5 separate regions of the Homo sapiens genome follow, and all the other regions are linked to region 3. The links come from fine-mapping of genetic effects on gene expression. A gene starts in region 3. Each other region holds a variant in brackets. All regions are shown on one strand. Distances are between the middles of the regions.

Evidence for each region. PIP is the estimated chance that this variant, and not a neighbour inherited with it, causes the effect.
Region 1: its variant is the best candidate, but not a certain one, in a credible set for the expression of RNF217 in left ventricle (GTEx, PIP 0.54).
Region 2: its variant is the best candidate, but not a certain one, in a credible set for the expression of RNF217 in T cells (TOPMed, PIP 0.75).
Region 4: its variant is the best candidate, but not a certain one, in a credible set for the expression of RNF217 in sun-exposed skin (GTEx, PIP 0.85).
Region 5: its variant is the best candidate, but not a certain one, in a credible set for the expression of RNF217 in esophagus mucosa (GTEx, PIP 0.75).

The regions. Positions count from the first base shown.
Region 1 is chr6:125,088,065-125,093,198 of GRCh38, reverse strand. RNF217 (ring finger protein 217) reads right to left here. Exons shown (of 6, transcript NM_001286398.3): 6 at 566-5,134. Among named protein-coding and RNA genes, the nearest start is that of TPD52L1, 63 kb to the left of the region's middle. The variant C/A (reference allele first, on the strand shown) is at 2,426.
Region 2 is chr6:124,915,942-124,921,075 of GRCh38, reverse strand. It overlaps RNF217-AS1 (RNF217 antisense RNA 1), which reads left to right. Exons shown (of 7, transcript NR_026876.1): 6 at 828-888. Among named protein-coding and RNA genes, the nearest start is that of RNF217, 44 kb to the left of the region's middle. The variant T/C (reference allele first, on the strand shown) is at 2,663.
Region 3 is chr6:124,960,365-124,965,481 of GRCh38, reverse strand. It overlaps RNF217 (ring finger protein 217), which reads right to left and starts at 3,045. Exons shown (of 6, transcript NM_001286398.3): 1 at 2,056-3,045. The coding sequence starts at 2,937. It overlaps RNF217-AS1 (RNF217 antisense RNA 1), which reads left to right and starts at 2,455. Exons shown (of 7, transcript NR_026876.1): 1 at 2,455-2,659.
Region 4 is chr6:124,995,642-125,000,641 of GRCh38, reverse strand. The region is part of intron 1 of RNF217 (ring finger protein 217); the gene reads right to left. Among named protein-coding and RNA genes, the nearest start is that of RNF217-AS1, 35 kb to the right of the region's middle. The variant G/C (reference allele first, on the strand shown) is at 2,573.
Region 5 is chr6:124,881,497-124,886,630 of GRCh38, reverse strand. No RefSeq gene overlaps it. Among named protein-coding and RNA genes, the nearest start is that of RNF217, 78 kb to the left of the region's middle. The variant A/TA (reference allele first, on the strand shown) is at 2,077.

The DNA of each region.
Region 1 (5,134 bases), 130 kb before region 3:
GCTCTGTAATTTTTCAAAATTAAGATTATTTTCATTCTAATTGTTCTATAATATTCCATTCTATGAATATATCACAATATATTCATGATTTTACTGTTAAGGAAAATTCTTGTACTTACCCTTTGGTCAACAAAGGCCATTCTTTCCTTAGTGACAGATCTAGGAAAATCATTGCTAGGTTATAGAGTAGGCGTATATATTTGGCTTTAGCAGTTTAGTGGTTTCTGCTTTCCCACCCCTGTATAGGCCCCTTGGTCTAGAGAGTAAAGACCACCCTAAGCTGATCTCTTACTTCCACACTATTTGCTTCTTTTTCATGCCTCATGCAGAATGTTTGCACTGATCTTCACTATTCTGTGCTCTTTCCCCAAAACGTGCCACAGCAACACAACACAATCCACCTTCCCAAAAGCACACCCTTGAATTTCTGTTCATTCCTGCTCCTCCATTTCTAGAGTCCAATGTAGAAATTACTCCAGTAACTGTAGGCACAATAGTTTTGTTGCTGTGAAGTTTTATTTTTAATTTTTTAAAAATCCAAACCTATTGGAAAAAAAGACAAGAATTTTCTCTTTTAAAAACTTTTATTACGCATTGCTAAATAACATTGCATGATGTATTGCACACATCATGTGGTAAACAGCACTCCACAGTAATCCATACAATAGCTCGTACAATGACCATCAAAATAGTTTGAAAACCGTTATAGTTTTCATCCGAGTGAGTGTCTTTATATTCTTCCATGCAATCTGATTTCATAATTAAGATTACTCTTCCATTCTACAACAACCAACCGAAAATAATTTTTTATAAAAGCCCAACCACAACAAAAGGTCATTGGGACATTACGAAAAGTCGGAAATTAGACTCCAAAATATCACAAGGTGTCCGTCTTTTGAAAGACTTGTCCCTAAAATTTGTGTGATCTGACACTTGGGTTGCTTTTACCGCCAGCAGCATGTGACACTGTACTTACTGAGAAGGAACAGTACATTGACATATCGACTGAAAATTCTTGAGGTAATAGATTTTTAAATTTCACTGCTTAAAAAAAAAAATCTCTTAATTTTCAGGTCCTGTCCAGCAGGACCTACCTGTTGGCAGGAAGATTCTTTTCCTTTTTTTTTCTTTGTCAAATATTTACACATAACTGCATATACAACCTGTCTTTGTCTTTTCTAAGCACATGGTTTAGTTTAATTATTCAGCATACATTCATCAGGAAAAGTTGAATTATATATTATGATACATAAAGAATATAACAAACCTAGCATTTTGTATAAAGCTAAAACAAAAGGCACAGATCAAGAAGAGCAAAATAACATATTATATAAACAGGGTTGATGTTGATAAAGCTCACTGGGAACAAATAACATGTAAATAGCAGACACCATGGTTCTCTAGCATCTGTATGAAAGTATATTACTGACAAAATATTGCCAAGAATAAGTTGTAAGGAACTGGTCAAATTCCTGAAGTACCATACAGTTACTTTTATTTTTAATGCTTTTTGTAAAGTAATTTTGTCCTAATTGGAGCTATAGATAAAACTGAGAGTCATTTCAACTCCTGTTCTAAACTTAATTAGCATTTTTTATGGTTTTAAAGTACAATTCAATTTTAATGGCTTTAATTTCTGGTGTTTAATATCCATTTGTATAGGTTAGCTTAAAAATGAACAATGAATTTAAGAAAAATACATTGGCTAACCTGTTTTAGAGATAATACAGTAGATTAAGGTAGCAAACGCAGCCTATATACATCCCTAAAGATATGCTTTCTCCTTAGCACTTTAAATAGAGGGACCAAAGAACACTCACAAAAAATATATGGCTCTTTAGATAAGAAATAAAGTCAAGTGAAAAAAATAAGGCACTAATAACGTATATGAATGTTATATACTCATCACACAAAGCACCATATGGAAGGTTAAAGGGATTATACATTAGTGCTATTGGAAAATGAGAATAAACCCAGTTTCCCTGGCTTTTATTCACCAACTTCTTCCTTTATTTTCAGTAATTAGAGTGTAAATGCTAACGTGGTAGAAAAGTATATACTATGCTAAAAACACAATTCATGGAAACAACAGCATGAAATAATAATTTGGAAATAAGTTGATTGCTCTAAAAAGTGTAAGAAATTAGGTTTTTAAGATACTCCTTATTTCTCAACATTTCATCTCAACGTAATTTTTCCTTTGCAATTTCTTTTGAGAGATTTCTGCATATCAACATTGTCTAATTAAAAAATTTACTCTACCCCTCTCTTTCATAAAATATAATCAGAATGATTTCTTCCACATAGTTTTGTGATTATCAAAGTTAATAGTATAACTAATGAAATGGAGAAAAGGTTAAAAAATAAAATTGCATAAATATTTTCCAATATCATTAAAAAGAATCAATGAAATCTCTTTTCAACC[C/A]GGTCCATTTTAAACTTGAAAAATATTATAACTTACTTTATTTGGAAAATGGCTGCAAATTTTATAGAAAACTAAAAATATGCAATCTAATGAAATGATGGACAAGATCTGGTACAAATTACTATTCATCTTATGATCAAGAAATTTCTTCTAATTTTCTATTGTTAAGGAGAATATAATTAAAATGGAATACATTCTGATACTTAGAGGATGACAATAATTCCTTAGAACTGTAATTTCTGAATATACAGTAATAACAGATAAACACTCGAATTTTTTTCTCTTTAATATTTTACTCTATTTGGGAAAAGAATGAATAATTGTCCCACAGTTTTGAAATAGATATACATTGATATAAATGTTTGTTTCATAAAATTGCCTTACAATTTTGTTTAAAATAGAATCAAAACAACTGGTTCTTTGTTAACATTTTAACATCACTGTTGTGTTCCTTCTACAGAAAATCATTTCTGTCATCTCTCAGAATTTACTAATTACTATGTTAATTGCTTCTAAAAGCAACAAAATTGTCAATTTTCATATTAAAAATCTGTAACAGATTGTCCTTGTCAAGGTAAATGGTTTTATATATATACAAACTAATTATTATTCTATGTTTCACGTGAAACATAAGGTTGGTCTACTTTTTAAAATACCCTCTAGAGGATTGCAATTGTGATGAAAATGATCAAATAATAAAAGTAAGCTATTGAGGAGTTGCCATATGACACTTAAAAAAATGGGTCTTAGAAGGGTTTCTTGTCAGCTGATAATGAAATTATGATACTTTATCTAGACTTTTCATTATAAAGAAACATAAAGCATGCTAATTTTCTATAAAATGAAAGAATTTAGATATTTATATCAAAAATTTAGATACTAGTGGCTTGAAACAATACAAATATATGGGGATATTGAAGAAGTAATACATTCACAAAAATGCTGTTTTTAAGGATTTGATTGGATTACTAAGAATATTTCCCAAGCTGGGGCATGGCGAAGTGAACACATCACAGATTCGCAGAGAACCAATGACAGCATAGCTTGCCAGCCACAAGAATCTAAAAGGACATTTCAGCAATTTCTGGGGTCCTTTAACACTCAAGTCTGTCTCTCCCTTTTTCTTTCCTGTTATGTACTGAATCTATACTAAATATATTGAGTGTGGCATATCTAAATCATATCAATAAAAAAGTCAAACACTTGCAAATGACAAATGTTTTCTCTAGAATAGGGTTAATATCAGTTACATTCAATGTGACCTACTTTAGATTATTAAAAATCTAACAATGTTCACAGAGCATGAATCCATAATTGAATCTTATATACAAATGCTACACTATATAAATCCACCCCAAGTCCAAGCTGTAGGACGTTTTGCTGAAACAAAGACCATAAACCATACCTATAACCCTTTTTGGATGGAGAATGAATGACCTGGGGTCAGGTTGGATGAATGTCCACACATGCTTTCTGTCCAACTAATACGCAAACACAATATTGATCTTACAACAGTCACGAAGCAATTTCTGAAGCTTGGTTTTAGACTATTATTAGGCCCTCTGATCCAACTGGTATCTTCATTTGCTTGACTTACTTCTTGGCAGAGGGCTAGGCAGTGTTCTCCAACTCCTATCAAGAGGGAAAAGTGTTCCAGGCACTCCTGATACATTTCCATTTACAAATAAAATAAGCCAAGGTAAATTATGCTCACTACCAGAGCTAAATTCTGGAGTGCGTTCAGTGTTGAATTCATTTCATTACAGTGAAAGGAGTTACGGGCGAGACAGAATTTATCCCACACTTGGCCAAGATGGGAAGAAGACTGCAGAGGCAAAAATCAAGATAATTAGGAAATTTAAGAGAAAAAGGAGCTTGATGTTGTAGTATGTGGGTATCATTTCACAAGGAAAGTCATTTAGTATTAATAATGGAATAGAGTGACAGAATATAGCACAGAACTGAAAAAAAGTATTTTTTATCTTAGTAAGTCTGAATAATTTAAGTGATACAAAGTTAGATACACCAAATGAAAATTTTTAGAAGAAAAAAGGAAGTGACAAAAAAGGGCAATGGCAATGTTTTGTGTATTTAAAAAAAATTATTGCCTTTTACATTCATACTGTTATTCTAAAATAGTCACTTCTCTAGCCAAAAAGATATATATAGTTTGTAACATGCATAATTACATTCTTTTAAAACTGGCAATATGTATAGGGATTTTGTAAGGTATGTGATATGGTAAAGCTTCAGCTAATGCTCCAAAGAAGCAATGAGAATAGTCTCACTACTGTGACTCTGTTTCTTGGATTTGGATGAAGTCAACCAAAGTTACAGCCTTACAATTAGTAACAATAGAAGTCCCACACAAAGTTTGGCTATGAAATGTGTATTTGTTCTATTTTCAAAATCAGAGTTTCAAAGGAGTCCCACTGTAATTCTTTCTTAAAGATTTGTATCATTGGTTTGCATCCAAAAGGTAACATTTCACAATCTTAAAATACTCCCCAAATTTTGGAACTCTGATTTTGTTCTGATAATACTTTAATGCTTCTATAAAATTATTTGTTTTATCAAATTAATAATTGTGGCTATAAAAATTAACAATGTGATTTTGAAGACAGGCATAGTAGGCACGTGCTTGTAATCCCAGCTACTCCAGAGGCAGAGGAGGGAGGATCGCTTGAGCCCAAGAGTTTGAGACCAGCC
Region 2 (5,134 bases), 44 kb after region 3:
TCCAGGGCATGCCAGAGGTCTTTAGGGAGCCCCTCCCATCACAAGCCAGGAGGCTTAGGAGGAAAAATATGGTTTTGTGGGCCAGGCCCAGGGCCTTGGTGCTTTGTGAAGTCCCCTGGACTTGGTGCCCTGTGTCCCAGCAGTGGCTAAAAGGGCCAGCGTACAGCTCAGGCCGTTGCTTCAGACGGTGCAAGCCCCAAGCCTTGGCTGCCTCCATGTGGTGTTGAGCCTGTGGGTGCACAGAAGTCAAGAATTAAGGTTTGGAAATCTTCACCTAGATTTCAGAGGATGTATGGAAATGCATGGATGTCTAGGCAGAAGTTTGCAGCAGGGTTGGAGCCCTCACAGAGAACCTCTGCTAGGGCAGTGCAGAAGGGAAATGTGGGGTGGAAGCCCCTACACAGAGTCCCCACTGCGGCACTGCATAGTGGAGCTGTGAAAAGAGGGCCACCATTCCCTAGAGCCCAGAGTAGTAGATCCACCAACAGCTTGCATCGTGCACCTGGAAAGGCCATAGACACTCAATGCCAGCCTGTGAAAGCAGCCAGGAGGGGGGCTGTACCCTGCAAAGCCACAGGGGTGGAGCTGCCCAAAGCTGTGGGTGCCCAACTCTTGCATCAGCATGATCTGGATGTGAGACATGAAGTCAAAGGAGGTCCTTTTGGAGTTTTATCATTTGACTGCCCTGCTGGATTTCAGACTTGCCTGGGGCCTGTAGTCCTTCATTTTGGCCAATTTCTCCAATTTGGAATGGGTGCATTTACCCAATACCTGTACCCTACCCCCACTGTATCTAGGAAGTAACTAACTTGCTTTTGATTTTACAGGGTTATAGGCGGAAGGGATTTGCCTTGTCTCAGATGAGACTTTGGACTGTGGACTTTTGAGGTAATCCTAGAATGAGTTAAAACTTTGGGGGATTGTTGGGAAGGCATGATTGTTTTTGAAATGTAAGGACATGAGATTTGGGAGGGGCCAGAAGTGGAATGATATAGTTTGGCTGTGTCCCCACCCAAATCTCATATTGTATTGCAGCTCTCATAATCCCCATGTGTCATGGGAGGAACCAGGTAGGAGGTAATAGGATCAATGGGGCAGGTTTTTCCCATGCTGTTCTTGTAATAGTGAATAAGTCTCATGAGATCTGACAGTTTTAGAAAGGGCAGTTCCCCCTGCACATGCTCTCTTGCCTGCTCCCATGTAAGACGTGCCTTTGCTCCTCCTTTGCCTTCTGCCATGATTGTGAGGCCTCACCAGCTGTGTGGAACTGTGAGTCCATTAAACCTCTTTTTCTTTATAAATTACTCAATCTCGGGTATGTCTTTATTAGCAGTGTGAGAACAGACTAATACAGGAATCAAAGTAGTAGATGTGGAAAATGTTGTAGGCAATCAATAGAGTAAGGAACCAGTTTTAGAATGGTCAGGAAGGCCGTATCAAAAGAATAGGGCCCTAGTAGGATATTAAGATGACCAAGTGGGAGGGGAGTTTAAATGAAATGTGAGGAAAAAGGAAGGCACAAGGCAGATTTTGCATAGGAGCTGCCAAAAGAAGCAAAAGAAATAGAGATGATGATTTCTGTCCTCATGGAACTTACGTATAAATGAAAACACTATAAACAGAAAAGAAAACATGAAATATTTAAAAGAACCATATTTTATGGACTATGTTAATTAATATTATGGGTTGTCTATATGCAATGCTGAAGAAGCATTAGAGTGGCTGTGCTTTTCTGGTATTAGGAGAGTATTGTGGAAGAAATGGGTTTGGAGTCACAGTTTAAAGACAGTCATGGATGTGAATTTCTTAGTCTTAATTCATATTCTCACTAAAGTATTTGATTGCCTAGTAAATATATATTGAGTGTCCATTCTGTAGCAGGTTTTCAAAGCCTAATAAACTGCATTTGAAAGGTTTTCCCCTTTATTGTTCTTTATAAATGTAACTTGTAATTGCTGCAATGAACCATAATTACTTAAAGCCAGATTAGATGAACTGTAAGTGCCATTACTAACCCTCTTAATTAGGGAAAGCAAGCTCAAGGGAAAATGAAAATGGATGCAGTGATGATTGCTTGTACTCAAGTGCAACAAGGACACTCAAGAGAAGTTATACTACAGTATTCTAATTCTAAGCTTATTTATGCATTAAAAAGTTGACCATTTAATAAATGTTCTTACTGCTATTTTGAAGTCACATCCCAAATCCTGAAATCTCTAGTTTGGTTTTTTCCATTAATAAGCCATTTAAATATTTGTATCCAGTGAAAATCCCTCTTCTGACAACTAAATATAGAAAGCTAATCACTTCGTGGTTAGACCCAATGAACAACAAGCTTCTCAAACTTAATACTCATTTATTTATTTATTTTTTGCTTCAATTGAATGCCAATTGTTTCATTTTCCCATTATTTTGATTTCTAAGGGAAGATAACTCTAACCTAGCTTAGATGGAGGACACAAAAGAAATAGACTTTTATTTTCCTACAGAGAATATAAATTCACAAATGTAAAAGACTCTTGCCACATTCACTTCCTTCTTTTCTAGCTCTCTTCATTATGGAAGTGGTAGTAAATAATTCCTGGAGAATTATATAGATTAATTGTTGTCAGGAAAACAAAACCGAAACCAAAGTAACAACTAAAGAATGCTACAGAACTTC[T/C]TGTGCACTCTTTGAGCATAATGTCTGCTCTATGTCTCTCACAAGGCAAGATCTCTGCAACTCAGGCCTCCTAAGGGACCTCTATTACCAGCCTCTAAAGACTTAGTTGGAATGTTTGAACATGTTTTAATATAGTAAGAGCTTTTTAATTTTCTTTCAATTAACAAAGTTTTATTATCATCAAACAGGGCCTCTAGAACTATATCTGATGAATTATTCAAAAAGGGTTGTGAAACAGGTTCACTGTGCATTGATTACCAATTTGTCTGAATCTAGTGAGACAGAATACCCCTCACACAAGTTATATTTAGATATTTTATTATAGATAGCAGCAAGAGTTTACAGAAACCTGGGATTCATTGTGAGCCAGTTCTTCACGGCTCAGGAAAGTCACCCAAGGCAGTTGAGAAACCCCAGAAAACAGCCTTCCCTGGTTTTATGCCCCAGGGGATTATGACATGCTGAGCTAAAGTATTAATGAACATCCTCTTCTGGGGGGTTAGAACAAGCCAGAGCTATTTGGACTAGCTCCCCCTTATCCCAGCACATTCTACAGTTATTCTTGAGAACTAAAAGGGAGGAAGGCAGAAAAACTGGGTTTGTCCAAAGGGGCACCCAGAGAACTGCCCTACAGAAGGTAAAGGAGGTAGAAGCTTATACATATTTTATACTGGAGTTTAGATGCAAAACAATGTGGTGCCTAAGGATATAATATTTGCAGTAAAAAAACCCAGAGTTTGAATAACTCTTGTCGTGTGACTTTAGAGAACTCCCCACCTCCCCATTTTTTAAAGCAAAACATTTTTTACTACAAAATAATGTATGACAGTTGTCATAAAAATATTCAAAACATCACTAAGAAATTGTATTAAGTCATTCTTGCATTACTAAAAAGAAATACCTGAGAGTGGGTAATTTATAAAGAAAAGAGGTTTAATTGGCTCACAGTTCCGCAGGCTGTACGCTGAAAACATAACTCCAGCATCTGCTCAGCTTCTGGGGCGGCGTTAAGGAGTTTTTACTCATGACAGAAGGCAAAGTGGAAGCAGGTACATCACAGGGACAAAGCAGGAGCCACAGAGAGAGAAAGTGGGGTGGGGGAGGTGCCACACACTTTTAAATGACCAGATCTTGTGAAAACTCACTCATTTGCAAAGAGAGCACCAAGCCATGAGAGATCCACTGCCATGACCCAAACACCTCCCACTAGGCTCTACCTCTAGCATTGGGGATTACAATTCAACATGAGCTTTGGGTGGGGAAAAATTACCAAACTATATCAGAAACAAATGGTAAAAATTGATCATCTATTTTCTCTTTCAGTCTTATTGCCCAGAGGAAACCATATTTACAGTATGTCCATAGGAACTTTCTTCATATATCTTCTTTTTCTGTCATGTAGATACTAATTTTAAAAACAACAAATACCAGATTATATTTGTTTGACAAAAATACTTCTGAAAATTATGCAATTATGTGAGTGAATTACTTAAACTCTTTAAGCCTTAGTGTCCTCGACTATAAGGTGAGGATGTTAATTCCTATTTCAAAAAATATGATGAGGAATAGATGAGTTAAAAGCAAAGTGCTTAGTAAAGTGACTGAAATATGGAAAAGGTTCAATAAATGCTGCATGTTAGTTATCCAGGGCTCTTGCTCCTTTTCACTTCTCTGGTTGCAGTGCACTTTCAGTGTTCTATATGTAGTTGCACAAGTGCATGTTATCCATTTATATCAGCCCATATCCTAGAATCAGTAACGGTTCATGGAAGACGCTTAATCAGTGATCACTGAATGAATGAACACACCATGAGTCTAATACTTATTGAGCTGCTTTGCAAATATTTATTATGTCAGTTTGTCTCCTTTTCTTCTCAAAGCTCCTTGAAGACAGTGGCTTCCTTGTCTCACTCATTTTTTTTACTCTACATCACACAAAGTAGGCCTTAACCAATATTTCGTAAACACAGGCATGCTCCTAATCTAGTCAAACTTAGAGCTACTCTTTACTTCTGCATAAGAAATTTGAAAGGAGCACATTCTAAAGGCTGACTGTGGAGTAGAAGGAGCGCCTCACAGCCTTATTCATCTCAGGCAATCTGCCGTTCTTTTAAAGAGCTGAATAATCCTTTCTAGGTCCTTCTGACATTTTGATCTAGAATGCTTGCTTGGAGACTACCAAGGAAAGGGGATCTGATGTTCAGGATTATGATTTATCTTTGAAAGAACCCACAAGGGAGAGAGAATTCATAGAGTTGAGGAAAAGCCAAAGATCTCTGGGGTCTTTTCTGGTTGGCCACCAGGCCTGGATTGACTTCTCTCTTCAAGCCCTCTGCATTTTTGGAGCAAAAAATCTTGACTAGGCACAAGGTATTGACTCTTCATTTTCATTTGAAAAATTACTCAATCTACTTGACTTTCCAACTTGGGTGTATATCTTCTCGTATTTATCTGGAGAAATTAAATAATCAT
Region 3 (5,117 bases):
TCTGCCTCAGCCTTCCAAGTAGCTGGGATTACAGGCATGCGCCACCATGCCCAGCTAATTTTGTATTTTTAGTAGAGACGGGGTTTCACCATGTTGGTCAGGCTGGTCTTGAACTCCCGATCTCAGGTGATCCACCTGCCTCAGCCTCCCAAAGTGCTGGGATTACAGGCGTGAGCCACCGCACCCGGCCAATAATGTGTATTATTATTTATTGAAAGTCCCAGCAAATACTTTGGAAGAAGGTCAGGCACATACATACAATCAGAAATGCTGCAGACAAGCTTCAGATACTGTGTCACTGCAGAGGAGTTTTTAGTGGTTGTACTGTACACTGCAATGACCACTTGACTATGTCCCTCTGTCTCCCTACTACCATTACTAAAACTTCCTAAAACTAACTTATGAGGTTTAATAAAGAAAAAGAAAACTGCTTTGGGGAAAGGGCCCACCATAAGGAAATCAAACTGCTAGGTAAAGTACCCCAAGCCACAATGACTACCTCCCTTGAATTTCTGGAATGTGTATCCAGCATTTAACAGGAAGTGCTATCTGGAATTGTTACTCTATTGACATCTCATCCCATGCTACCTTGTATTGTTCTTTTGTACACATCTGCTCTCACAGTGACTTCCCTGGAGGCGGGCTTATATTTTGGAAATGTCTGAATCCCATCGCAGGGCAGCGAAATCTGTTTTGAGGATGATGATACAGAAACTACCACAACCAGCAGCAGACATTCCTCCTGTTTTAAGAATCTCTGTAGATAAAGCATGAAAGAAACAACAGTCTCTCAGAGGCTTTTAAATAATCCCAACTATTTTAGCCAACTTACTGTTTATGTAACATACCGTTTTAAGTCTTTGTTTGCATTTTTAGTTAGGGACTGTACACACTTTCAGTCTAGACCCAAGCATGAGTTAGCCAAAAAACATAGAGGAATCACATGGTACGGAGCCCTGTTCAGTTTGTCCCAGCCAATGTTATTAAAAACACTATGATGGGCAAGGGACTCAACATGAAGCTACCACATATGGGACTCTAAGACATTGTCCAGACAGTCTAACAAGACAAGCAGACACGAAAGAAACAACTTCAGTGCATGTAAGATAATATAAGATACTGTGAAAGTATATAAGCAGTGACTTGGAGGGTGAGGCAACGCTTCACAGAAGAGTTGGCACCTGAACACACAGGGTTTTGAAAGATGAATAGGCCTAGGACAATTGGACACAGGATCAAAGGGCATCCAGGATTGTGCAAAACACTGGCAGAAACATCACAGATTGAAAACTGCTGGAAGAACGCATTCACCGTCAGTGAAGGAAAGCTGGTCTGGTGCACTCTCAAGCTTTCCAAGAAAAAAAACCAAGTTTTCAAATAAAAGCAGAGGAGGAAAGTTTCACCAGTGCTTGTTCTGAGAAACCTCTTAGCCTCTCTTTGCTTTGTTTTGCTCTTTCTGTTTTGCTTCCCTCTTAAAGAGTGCTGGCTTAAAACCTCAGTGAAAGAAAAGTACTTCAACTTTACTGTGGAAAAAGGAAACTGAAAAGTAGGCAAAGGCCAAGGGATACATTTTTTTAAACATTCACTCTTTCCTGGAATATACAAATGAAGCAAAATTACAAATTCATGTATTATGGGTCTGAAATATTTATTCCAATTCTTTTCTCCACCAGCTCCATAAATATTTATTCTATGCCCACTGCTTGTTAGTTTCTGGGATACCAGGCCGATGAGGCAGTCTCTTCCTCTCCTCCTTTGAGCAAGCTTGTGCTTGCAATCCTGTATAAGAAATAAGAGGAGGGCAACAACTTGTATCTTGTGCCTTCTACACATGCCAACCATAGCCTGAAGTTCACAGCAAAGTTAAATTCCAGTTAAGTAAACCAGTGAGGTCATAATACACTTAAATAACAACTGAGACGTGAGAAACTAACAGAGATCCTCAGTAAGTGTGTCGGTCACCTCTTCGCGCGAGCAGGGAGATCAGATCGAGAGCAGGACCTCCTCGCCAGTGATTTGGAATGATAAATGGGGAAGAGAAGGGGGTGAAGTTACCTGGGCGCTCAGGTAGACTTTGAGGCACTCCTCGCACACGGCCTTCTTGCAGCAAGGCAGGGGCTTGATGGGCTTGTCTTCCAGGCACACCCGGCACATCAGCACCATGAGGGGCACATAGGGATCCCCTACACCGCCCAGGCCAGAGTAGGGTGGAGCTCCCAACAGGCTGGGCATGGAGAACGGCTCGGGCGCCAGGTAGAACTCCAGCTCGATGCTGCCGCCGTCGGGGGAGAGGGAATCCGTTGGGAGGGACAGTCGGGGGCTGGGGAAGGAAGAGCGGGTGCTGGGAGGGTTCAACACTGGCGGAGCCCCAGGTGGCGACGCGGGCGGCGAGAGCTGCTCCGAGGCGGGGGCCTCGGGCAGGTCGCTCTCCACGCAGTACACGGAGCAGAAGACTTGTCTCTTGGCGAGGGACGGGCGCCGCTGACCCAGCACGTCCAGGACCAGTCCGTCGGCGGCCCCCACGCGGGTCCTGGGCTCCAGCTCTTCGCCGGGGGGCGCCTCCTGCTGTTCATCCCCTCCCTCTTTTCGATCCCCAGCTTCCTCCTCTTCCTCCTCCAGCTCCAACTGCAGTGGCAAGGTCTGGGGATTGAGAGGCCCGGTGAGTGCCAGTCCCGCAGGCTGCGCCGGTGCTCGGCTCTTACTCCAGCCCGGGGGCCCCAGGCTCCTCGCGGGCTCTGGGGCGCTGGTGTCCGCGCAGCCCCAGTCGCTTCCGCAGCCACCGCCGCTCGGCTCCGCGGAGGCGGCGCGCAGCGGGGGCGCCCGGGCGCTGTCCCCCTGAGGCCTCGGGGGCTCAGGGTGGCCCGCAGTGCCACTGGCCAGGGTCTGCGACTCCTGGGGCCCGCCGCCGCCGCTCACCGTGCTCTGCTCCTCGCCCATCGCCGCCCGCGGCCCGCGCCGCCGCTGCCCATCCAGCCGCCGGGACCCCCACCCGGCGCCCGCGGGCAGCGGGGGCAGTGGCTCGGCTCGACTCGCGGCTCCGCTTCTGCTTCCGGGTCCTTCCTCCTGGGCTGGGACGCCCCAAGTCCCCTCCGGGGAGCCCGTGCTCCGAGGCTGCGGCGCGTGGGGAGCCTGGCCCGGCCCGCCGCTCCTCCTCGTACTCTGGCGCGGCGGGGCACCGCCTCGGGGGCGCCGAGGGCCGCTCGCTCTGGGCTCGGGCGCGCCCGCCCCACATGCAGCTCGGGGCGGCGCCGCAGCCCCAGCGAGCCCCAGGCGGGACAGAGGGGTCTGGGAGGAGACGGCCGTCAGTCCCGCGCCATCACCGGTCCCGGCTGCCGGACGCGCGGCCCGAGGGCGGTGGTCAAAGGGTCGAGGGGCCTGTGGCGCCGCCGCGGCGCGCACCAGGAGGTGCAGCCGGAGCGCTGGCCAGCCGCAGGGCCCCTGGGGGAGAGGCCGGAGCGGGCGACCTCCCTCTCCCCGCGCTTCACCTACAGCCCTCCTCGCCGCCCCTCACCCCACCCCTTTGGCGCACACCTCCCCACACGTACACACGCGCGCAGGCACCCGCGCACACACACACGCACACCCTGAGTGGGTGTGATCTAAGAGCTGAGATGCGCTTTCTCGCCCGGAGTTCACACTCAGCCTCAACAAAACCCTCAGAGCAGGCAGGCTCCCCTTTGGTCTCCGCATTCAGTAGAACTTCCTACAAAACTACACTCAGCTCTGGAATTAGTAAACGCTGGCTATTTAGGATGTCGAGTTCAGAGAAATAATGCTAAGGATTATGAATTCTAAATGCTGTATATTACAACTCTGTTTTTCTGCCTAGTGGAGTAGGAAGAATCTTCGAAACCCATAAATAATCGAAAAAGCACTTTCGATCTACTCCTCCAACTGGAATCCTTAGAAGAGTTGATAACTAATTTAAAATTTCTCTCTTTTTCTTCGCCTACAGTGTTCTCTTAGAAGTTTTTTTTTTTAACCCTTTTCAGCATTCCAAAATGGATAGCACAAGGTGGAAAAATGTCCTGACCTAATTAATAAACTGGATCATTAGTGGAAATCATGGGCAGTTTCATTAGCATAACCATATTTATCCTCAAAACTGTTTCCAAAACAACAATTATATGTGAGCCAGGACTTAATTATGTGTTGATCTATCTTTATTTTACAGGAAGTATTACTCACCCAGACACTGGTGTTTTAGTTCCCTAAAGCCAGTGAAAACATTTTTGGGAAGCCAGCCCTTGTTTTGTTTTTTTTCTCCTGAGAGGGAATTCAATTTACACATTCATGTAATAGCAAGGAACTGTAAAGTGTGTAGAATTTTATTTTTTAATCTCGAAGTTGTTATTGGGTTGTTCTAAAATATTTTCCAAATCAGATGCAAATGATACAAAGGTGACTAGCGATGCAAACTAAGAAAGCAGTGTAATGCCAAAGAACATTTCCATCATATATGTGTGTCTGAGGCTCAGTTGCAAGCAAAGGTATGAATTGGATGTCTAAATGCCATGTCATCTATCGGTCTGACCCAAGAATGGAAAATTCTTATTTTGAAGATTAAATGCTATTCGAGGATTCTTTTCTTTTTTATCTCAGCTAAGTGATTTCCTGGTAACTGCTGTTTTCTCCAAATGATACTTTAAGTGCTTATTGTTTTAAAGACAGAGACAAGAAACCTACTTATGTGTGCCTTTTGAGTGTGCCATCTGATGACCAAGCCACTATTCTTTCCAGAGATATAAAAGTAATCTGCATTTTCCAGGTGACAACAGGCTAAGACCAGAGTAACAATAATGGATGCCAAAAAGTATATTCCCACAGCGTCTATTGGAATAAAACCCCTCAAAGTCCTCTTATAGTTTTGGGAACCCCTCCTCACACACATTTTTCACTCGTATTCTGAGAACTTGTTCTTCCAGTGTTTACCATTTTATTCCTTATCCCTTAGGTTCCAGCTTACTGGAAGTGGCTGTCCTCTACACCAAACCCATTAGAAGTCCCTGCTGGGACTCATGATGGCCGCCCATATCTCTGCTGCTTAAAACTGCAGCCCTTTATTTTGCCATGACTTCTTCCCTACAGAATTCATTGGGCCTTTGTGAAAATAGAAT
Region 4 (5,000 bases), 35 kb before region 3:
TGCATACAAATCTGAAATGTACCATATTTTCCTAGAATACCTGATTAATGTGAGGATCAAAATTACCCTAGTAAATTATAAAATAATAAATATTTAAGGATGAATCAGTAGTTGTTTTCAAAAAATAATAATTTTTTCTTTATAGAATATTATATCATATAAAAATGGCTGAACAATTTACAACTATTGTCTGATATCTATAATGCCCCCTTACATTTACACATTGTGTATTATATATAACATATCATATAACATTATGTGTGTTTCTCAAAGTGTAACCTAATATACAGCAACTATCACTATAGTAAAAGAGTCTTGTTTTAATCAGCTTTAAGACAAATTTTTAAGTAATAATTCATGTTATAATACCATTCAACAGAATACATTTTTAGTTTCTAGAATCGCAAACAAACTAAAACACCAATTTAAATTCAAAATAATGGTACGATGTGGCAAGGTTTTATACTATTAATACTATTTGCCAAGCACTAAAAAAAAATAAACAGAGATGTAAATTCAGAAAGTAAATATTAAATAATGGGACTGCATTCCATAAGCCAAGGTTTCTCTAGCTTAAACAGAGATATAGCTTGAGAGAACTGAATCATTACAAGACCAGTGGCAGTAATCAGTACAATGCTCAGTTACACTAATTTAGTTTCAGCAAACAGCAGCAAAAACAACAATATTGTTCATTAAACTGATCTTGTCAATTTGTAAATAAGCTATTGGTGGTATAATTGTTCTGGGACCTTTTTCATATATTTATTTAATAGTTTAATAGCTGTTTATCTGTATAAGAGAAATAAGTAAGTATAAAGTATGTGAAAAGTACAACTGGATTTTTTTTTAACGTTACAATGCTAAGTCAACACCAGGGGTCCATGATAATTTTTTCCTTTAAAGGTTGTCTGAACATTTCTCAATGTTGAAAAATTCTGCTCCAAGCTTTTCAAAGCAGTTTTCATCATTTTATTTGATCCACAGAACAGCCCTAAGGCTCACCCTCACTTTCAAGATTAAGCAAATGTGGCACAGATAGATCACCTGGCTTGACTGTAGTTATACTTTAGGCTCTGGCAGAACTACAGTCTATGAGCCTAAAGTACAGTGCATTTTCTACAAGATCACACTAAACATAACAATGAGTTTGAACCACAATTTTAAAGCTTGAAAAAAAAAAGGTAAAGATCAATTGTATTTGCTCTTTTTCTAAAAGAAGTGGGAAAGATGAGAGAAGAGATACACTTACAGGAATTCACAAGACAGAAAGCATGCAGTGAAACTGGAGAAGGGATCTGCTGGGGAATCAGCTAAGGAAGAAATGAATCCCTGCCAGCTTGAAGTGCCAACTTCCTTGTGCACCTGCGGTTAGAAACTCATGACACGGGCAGATTAAAAATGGAATGACATTCCTACAAGAGGAAATTTAAAATGAAATATACCAAAGATCAGCCAGTCTCAGAACTGGACTAGGGGCCACTAGGCCTTGTTTGTCTTCAGTATAATACACAGTATGTTTTTCCTAGTATGCTTTTTAGAGGCACGAAGTCACCTTAAGAAAGAAGTTGTGTTTTATGTCAAATACTGCTATAAATCAACTGCAAGCTCTATACTATATGTAAAGGTATAATTACATGTATCTATTTTTGAAAACAAAAAGTGGCAACAAAAGGCACTTTTGAAGGAGTCAATTCCACATGTACTTTTTCAGGGCCTATTACATGTAAGGCATTGTTCTGGACCAAAGTGAGAATAGATTCCTTGCCCACTACATGTTTACAACCATACAGGTGCTTATAATCTTATGTTGACAAAATATTACTACACAATTTTTGTTTTTTGAGACAGAGTCTCGCTCTGTTGCCCAGGTTGGAGTGCAGTGGTGCGATGGCTCACTGCAGCCTCCCCCTCCCAGGTTCAAACGATTCTCCTGCCTGGGCCTCCTGAGTAGCTGGGACTACAGGTGCACGCCACCATGCTTCACTAGGTTTTTTGTATTTTTAGTTAGAGATGGGGTTTCATCATGTTGGCCAGGATGGTCTTGATCTCCTGACCTCATGATCCGCCCACCTTGGCCTCCCAAAGTGTTGCGACTACAGGTTTGAGCCACGGCACCTGGCCTTCTACACAGTTTTTAAATGTTATGACCAATATTAAAAAAATGTATATAGAAAAATGGTAGAGAAATTCTGAATTTTGGGATCATGGACAAAGTGAAGATGGAGATAAGCAGACAGATTTACATGAGGCTTTAGGAAAAGTTGAATTCGTCTTCACTTCCCCTTGTCCATATCCCACAGCAGTTTGTACCTCTGTTAGAGAATCTGAAATGGGGGAAAGGAGCTGAGGGAAGAAAAAAGGCAAATGTAAATGACATACAAGGTGAATCCATGGGATAGGAGAATAGAGGGGCAAAATGAGGGAAGTAAAGTGTGAAAAAATAAGGTAACGGAGATGATGAAGATTTGAGGCTACGTGACTGGGAGAATGAAAATGCCCAGAGCTGAGAATAGAAATGACTGGAACATGAAAGGATGAAGTGGTGAATGGTCTGGAAGAAATATTAAAA[G/C]TTTGCTCTGAACATATATAATCTGAGGCATCTGAGGAGCCATGTCAATTAGGAGATGCCCCTTGCTCACAATCAGAAAAGGAATGCCGGAGTCAGGCAGACATTCAGGATTCAACATGGAAATTTTGGAGTCACCGTCACATAAGAACAGGTAAGGACAGTTCAAGCGGTGGGATCAGTAAGGTCAAAGGGATACTACAGGATGAAAAAATTAAAAGCAAGGCAGATATTGGAGAAATACATTAAGTTAGTAGAGTCTAGAAAAGCCTTTGAGGGAGAGACAACTAAAGGTGAGAAAGTAAAGAAAACAAGCAAGGGAAAGTGTTCAGGGCTGTAGAGAGAGCGAGCAGATTAAAGATGCAGGATTTACCCTGAAACTAGTGTCCAGGTATCTCATCGCCACAGGCTGTTTCCAAGGACCTATGAATGTGCTCAATGCGTCAGATGTTTTTGCAGGAGTGAGAGATTTAACTGTAATTGGTTAAGACCCCTGTCACTTTCCACTCTGACTTGCCCTTCATCAATGTGTCTGCTGTCATTACTACAGCTATGAGTGAACATTTTTCGGATTTGCCTAAGAAGTATTTGAGATGGGAATATATTAACTCGAGTTGTGTGAACCTGTCTATGTGATTTACAGTCACTTTCGCATATGGTTAAGTAATTGGCAGAGCCCTAGGGTAGGAATGATTTCCAGGAATATCTTCCATCCTTTTGTGCTGACTTACCTGGAGTCATGACTTAAGCACCAGGATTGTAATACAACATGTTCTATAAAGCTCAGGGTGGGGAACATGCGAGTAGTGAAGCAGCCATACATGCAAATACATGGAGCCGTGAACTCTTCTATAGAAAAATCCTTTCAATCATCACACAGAACATTTTAAACAGAGGATTCTCTTTTCTATGCCTGGTCAAAACAGAAATTCTCTTCTCATCAGTTTAACAAATGAATACACACCGGACCAAAACAGAAAATAAATTCTTTTTTGACAGAAATGATGAAAAAATAGACTCTACCAGCACGTCCGTGTTTGTAGAACCTAAACTTGCAGGAGTGCTACAAACAAGTCTGTGTGAAGAGGAACATATTTTATGCATCTCCACTGTCAATACTAAACCATATTAAGATGATTTAAAGAAAATACGGATCATTTTTATACTCCAACTTTCAAAATTACATTACAAAATTTTCATTATACAAAGGTAATCAGGCTTTATATAGTAAAAAATAGATAAGTAATATAAAGATATACAAGGCAGTTAAGAGGAATGTTATATTTTAAAACTGCAATATTTGTAGTATTTGGTAGCTTTTAAAATTTGTAATTGTTGTGACTTATAGTCTCATTGTAATCATTTACTTTTGCATCTAACTTTATATTCATAACTTAGTCTTAAAGAGTATGCTCACACTGTATATGCTTCAGGTTACACAAAACTTGACTCTTCCCCTCATTATGAAGTTTGCCTTCAAGAGCCAATGTCAACAGAGCTGTGGGGACAGAATTCAGATTGCAATGGATTAAAGATAATTAAAACTCTTCATAAAAGACATCATAAAAATAGAAAAAGAAAACCATGAATTGGTAGAAGATATCCACAACACACATTTAACTAACAAAAGATTAGTATTGAGGGTATAAAAAATAGAACTCCTATCAATCAGTAAGAGACAACCCAAGAAACAGAAAAATGGGCTAAAGATAAGAAAAAGCACATCAGAGAAAACATAAATTATCTTCAAAAATTAAAAAAATCTTCAAAATTAAAAATCTTCAAAAATAAAAAAAGCTCAAGCTAATTATAAATGAGGGTAATGAACACACAAAATCATGAGATGTTTATTCATACCCTGCAGACTGGCAAAACACTTAAATATACGATGAAGTACTGTTGAGGTTATGGAGCAATGGGAACTTTCATCAGCTGTGGAGCGAGTATCAACTGGCACAACCACTTTGGAAAACAATTTGGCAATACCAAGCCAGGTTAAAGATTCATGGCCTTGTGAAGCAACAAAACCTTTCCCAGATTTAAAAAATCTGGAAAAATTCCTATACATGTACATAGTCTGTAAGAGAAATAGAAAAAAAAAACCCAGAAATATTCCAAATGTTTTTCTTTTCTTGATTCTTTTTCTTTTTTGAGACAAGAGTCTTGCTCATCACCCAGGCTGGAGTGCAATGACACGATCTCGGCTCACTGCAACCTCCACCTCCTGGGTTCACATGATTCTCCTAGCTCAGCTTCCCGAGTAGCTGGGATTACAGAAGTCCATCACCACGCCCAGCTAATTTTTGTAATTTTAGTAGAGATGGGGTTTTGCCATGTTGGTCAGGCTGGTCTCGAACTCCTGACCTCAGGTGATCCACCCACCTCGACCTCCCAAAGTGCTGGGATTACAGGCATGAGCCACAGCACCCGC
Region 5 (5,134 bases), 79 kb after region 3:
ACTTGCAAAGGGATGTTCCTCATCGGCTGCCCCCAGCTTACCTTTCCAGTCTCATCACCTGCCAGTTTTAACATGTACTCTCCATTTCAACCATGCGGAAAGCTCCAAATGCACAATTGTGTTTGATACCTCTGTGTGCAATACGCAGTTTGCATTGTCTGGAGCCTTCTTCCTATATTCTGTTTGGTAGACTCTTACTCATTCTTCAAGATCCACATCTAATTTCACCTCCTTGTGAACCTTCTGGACCTCCCTGAGGCTGAAGCTGAGAATCCTTTTTTTTTTTTTTTTGAGACGGAGTCTGGCTCTGTCCCCCAGGTTGGAGTCCAGTGGCGCCATCTCGGCTCACTGCAAGCTCCGCCTCCCGGGTTCACGCCATTCTCCTTCCTCAGCCTCCCGAGTAGCTGGGACTACAGGCGCCTGCTACCACGCCCAGCTATTTTTTTTGTATTTTTAGTAGAGACGGGGTTTCACAGTGTTAGCCAGGATGGTCTCGATCTCCTGACCTCGTGATCCACCCGCCTCGGCCTCCCAAAGTGCTGGGATTACAGGCATGAGCCACCGCGCCTGGCCGAGGTTGAGAATCTTAGTCAATTAGGGTTGCTGTAATAAAATATCGTAGATTGGGTGGTTTATAAACAACAGAAATTTACTCCTCCCAGTTCTAGAGACCAGAAGTCTGAAATCAGTGTGCCCACATAGTCAGGGTCTGCTGAGGGCCCTGTTCCAGGCTGCAGACTGACTTCTCCTTGGTTCCTCAGGCAGAAAGAGAGCAAGAGAGTACTCTGGAGTCCCTTTTAGAAAGGCACAAATCCCATTGTTTTAGGGCTGTACCTTCATGATCTAAATTATCTCCCACCCCACCTCTTAATATCGTTGCACTAGGGGTTAGGATATCAACATGTGAAGTTTGGGGAGACACAAACATTCAGTTCATAGCACTGAGCCACTTTCCACCGGGCTTGCAGAGAACTTCCTAGAAACTCCTACCATAATGGGTATTACTCCATTCATTGTTTATGCATTTTCTCTGCTTCTAGTTTTTAAGCTCATTGAGGTAAAGGATCCTGCCTCAATAATCTCTGTGGGTGGGTGACAGCCTCCAGATATTTTAATACCAAGCATCATTTAATCTATAAACCTACTGCCTGCTGAAGAAAGAAATGACTATATGATTGGTGTGAGGTGAATTGGAAAAGGGCTGAGGTATGAGGACAGGCCTAAGGATGAGTAAGCAAACTAGCAAAGTTTGTTTATGTCTCCAAAGAATTTGCTCTAGTTTTTCCATTTTTCAAATAGTTGATGTACAGTTGACTTCAACAGTTCAACGAGAGTGAGCTAGTTTTTGGTGTCTCATTCTCTGATAAGGCATACACCTTATGTTTTGGATCACCTGTGGTGGTGGAATCATTCAGTTACTTCAGTGGAAGAATATGTGTGGAAGAACAATAAAGCCGCTGGATATCATTTACTTTAAAGTAGTAGCAAGCATTATAGCAAGCCAAGGGGATTAGATTAATTGGGAAAAATATACATAATTTATAATCTTAGAAATGAATGCCAAATGCTTTTAATCTGATTAGACTCTTTTCTTCTAGTGCAGTTTAGATATGCTCTAAATTTGTGATTCCTAAAGGGGAGTTTAATAAAACACAGGTTCTGTAGAATATTAGTAAGAATTATGTTTAAAAAGAATTTCATTGTCAACTTTGGGAAAAATGTGGTTAAAAAGAATTAAGGTGGCTTTTCTAGTATTGTTTTTCCTACCCGAATGTACGTTATAAATCTCCAAGAGATGTATGTACATGGTATAAAGCAGTTTAAATTTTCTTGACAAGAGCCTCTTCTCTCTCTATTGTAATGTATCTAGGGGTGCTATTGTTTAACAAAACACTGAGAAATGCTGTTCTAAATTAGGAGCTTTGTAAGAACTTAGTTGCCTACAAGTACACTACATATTATACCAGTTGTAACATTTTCTGTCAAGCAAATGTGTATAAGGACTAAGTATGCAGCCTCTAGCTTCTCATTTTTGCTAGCCAGGCTATGAATGAATATTCTTCAAAGATGTTTTTT[A/TA]AAAATCTCTCTGCTATCTTTTTTTTTTTTTAAAAAAAAAAACACTGTGGAATATCAGCTAGCCTGAATCTTTGTTTATTTTTCTTTTTTTATTTTAAATCAGGGGACGACAGAAGAGTAAGTGCCTCTATAATTTATATCCAGGTGAGTGCCAATATAAGAGACAGCTTCCCAGGATGTGATGGGAAAAGAGAGAGAGACAGAGAGAGAAAGAGAGAGAGACCATTTGCCTAAGGGAGCCGTGAACAGCTGTAAGGATTTTTTTTTTTTTTTTTTTTTTTTTTTTTTTGAGATGGAGTCTCACTCTGTCACCAGGCTGGAGTGCAGTGATACAATCTCGGCTCACTGCAACCCCTGCCTCCTGGGTTCAAGCGATTCCCCTGCCTCAGTCCCTTGAGTAGCTGGGACTATAGGCACACGCCACCATGCCCAGCTAATTTTTGTATTTTTAGTAGAGACAGGGTTTCATCGTGTTGGCCAGGATGATCTTGATCTCTTGACCTCGTGATCCGCCCGCCGCAGCGTCCCAAAGTGCTGGGATTACAGGTGTGAGCCACCACACACCACACCTGGCTAGATTTTTTTTTTTTTTTTTTTTTTAAGATTCAAGAGGTACTTGTGCAGGTTTTTTACATGGGTAAAGTGCATGCTGCTGAGTTTGGGGCTTCTATTGAGCCCCAAATAGTGAACATAGTACCCAGTAGGTAGTTTTTCCACTTTTGTCCCTCTCCCTCCTTCCGCCCTTTTGGAGTCCCCAGTGTCTATTGTTTCCATCTTTATGTCCAAGACAAGGATGTCCACTTTCACCACTCCTATTTAACATAGTACTGGAAATCCCAGCCAGAGCAACCAAGCAAGAGAAACAAATAAAAGGCATCCGAATAGGAAAAGAGAATGTCAAATTACCTCTGTTTGCCAATGATATGCTAAAGAAATACTAAGTACACTTCAAGAAGGTGGAAATGGCTGACTCCCTCAGGCTACTGCTCAAAAGATTTGAATAGCACAGATATAAAAGTATTAAATGTTGTAAGTTAGTGATAGAGTAAGAGAGAAAGACAGAAAGATAATTGTCTAGATGAAAAGGCAAATGATCAATCTATTTCCATGGGTTAATTTTGTTTTGTTCTAGTGTGGAAAAATTTTCCTGTCGTAAGCTGGACACTCACACCTGTATCTACCACTTTCACAATAAACAAAACAGTGTGAGGATGAGAATGGAGAGAAAGAGGAAGTGTTTTTGAACTATAAATCACTACAGGCTTGGTATAAATTCCAAACCTTTCAAGAAGTGAACTTTATTTTGAGCAATGATTACAAGATGAGATGCCAGGGTATTTCGCAATGTAAGTAATGTATTTGACCAACAAAACAATACAAAACAAAGGCAACCAAGTTAAGAACGAATTACAGAATAATGCTTGACTCACTTGAAAACTGTCCCTTATGAAATTTCATTTGACAATTTGTACTTTTCTGGTTTTGGCTGTTTGGGGGTCTTTTTCCTTCCTTGAAATAACTTGACAGGAAATGATTATTTCCACTGAGTCAAAGAGGGCATATTTACATAGTTCCTCATGATGTGATCAGGAAATCCTGTGTAGAAAAAAGTCGCTGAAAAAAAAAGGGAAAAGTGTAGCCTGCTTATGTTTTCTTAAACTCCTCCTGCCCCACCCTGGAGCCATTTAAGATACAATCTCACTTTTCTTTCTTTTTTTTTCTTTTTTTTCTTTTTTCTTTCTTTCTTTCTTGCTTGCTTGCTTGCTTTCTTTCTTTCTCTCTCTTTCTTTCTCTTTCTCCTTCCTTCCTTTTTCTTTTTTCTCTCTTTCTTTGCTTTTCTTATCTTTTTCTTTCTTTCACATAGATTTCAGCACAAAGGCTCATACATTTGGGCTTGCTTTTTTCTTCTCAACGAAAGCCTTAGAAGGTAGAGATTTCAGATGCATTTTTCTCTCTTTCCTGAGTCTGTCCAGTAACAACAGGGATAGTTGAAAAATCTTAGGAAAAGGTTCTTGCTTTGCAGGTTTCTAATCTCATTCCTGACAAGCCGTCTAGTCTCCTGCTGACGTCTAGGAGATGCACATCAAAGGCAGAAATGATCTAGGCTCTGTGATCTCTCTTCTGAATGAGAGTGATGCTGCCAGCCAGGAGGGGGCTGTCACTTCAGACTCTCCAGCAAACTTGAGCAGCTGCAGCTGTCGCCTGAGGGAAAACCAGATGCATCAGTATTTTGAATGTGCTTTCAGATTTGCTAGGAATGCATAGACATGTTGCAATTGCTTTGCAGGACTCTGCTATTTGAAATCTGTCACAAAGTCAATTCCAATTTGGATACTAATATGATTACTGTTTGAGTGTTAGATGCCATGTACTAAATTTTACGTGAGGGTTCATCTATTTTTACCTACAAGTTCTATGAACCCCATGTGATAAATAGGGAACCTACCCAGGATGTCTAAGAAACATAGTGAGTCAGTTCTGTAAATGGTAATCTGGCAGCACATCTATTCTCCAATAACTTTCAACCATTTATGTTCACCCTATAACCTATTCCATCCTTGGGCAGGATAAGGGCCATTTATTGTCACCTGGGAATAAAGAATTAGCAAGTTAATCAATTGCTCTAGTTCAAATTTGTGTGGAAGTATTATTATTGTAGTTCAGGGATAGAAAATGATGCCTTTTTATATTATATGAATTTGTCTATATTGGCTACTGGGTATTCAAATGTGACTCACTCTCAAGTTGCTTTTCTTTGTAAAGAAGGCCAGCCAGTTTTGCATTTCCCAAATCTGGTTCTCTCCTTCTATAGCTATTTCCCAAGTTTGCTGTTTTTGTCACTTAGAAAGTTTGAACATGATAACTTAAGATTATATCACAGAGTTCAAAGTTTTAAAGACCATAATTCTTCCTTGTTCTTTTGACTGAGGATCTTGACCTTTAACCTAAGAGATATTTAAGATGTTTGAAAGTTAGTTGAATTCTTTGATCAACTAGTAGGGTTTGCATTAATCAAAAGCAAAAACAGAGAAATTAAAGTCCTAATGTGTTCAACTTA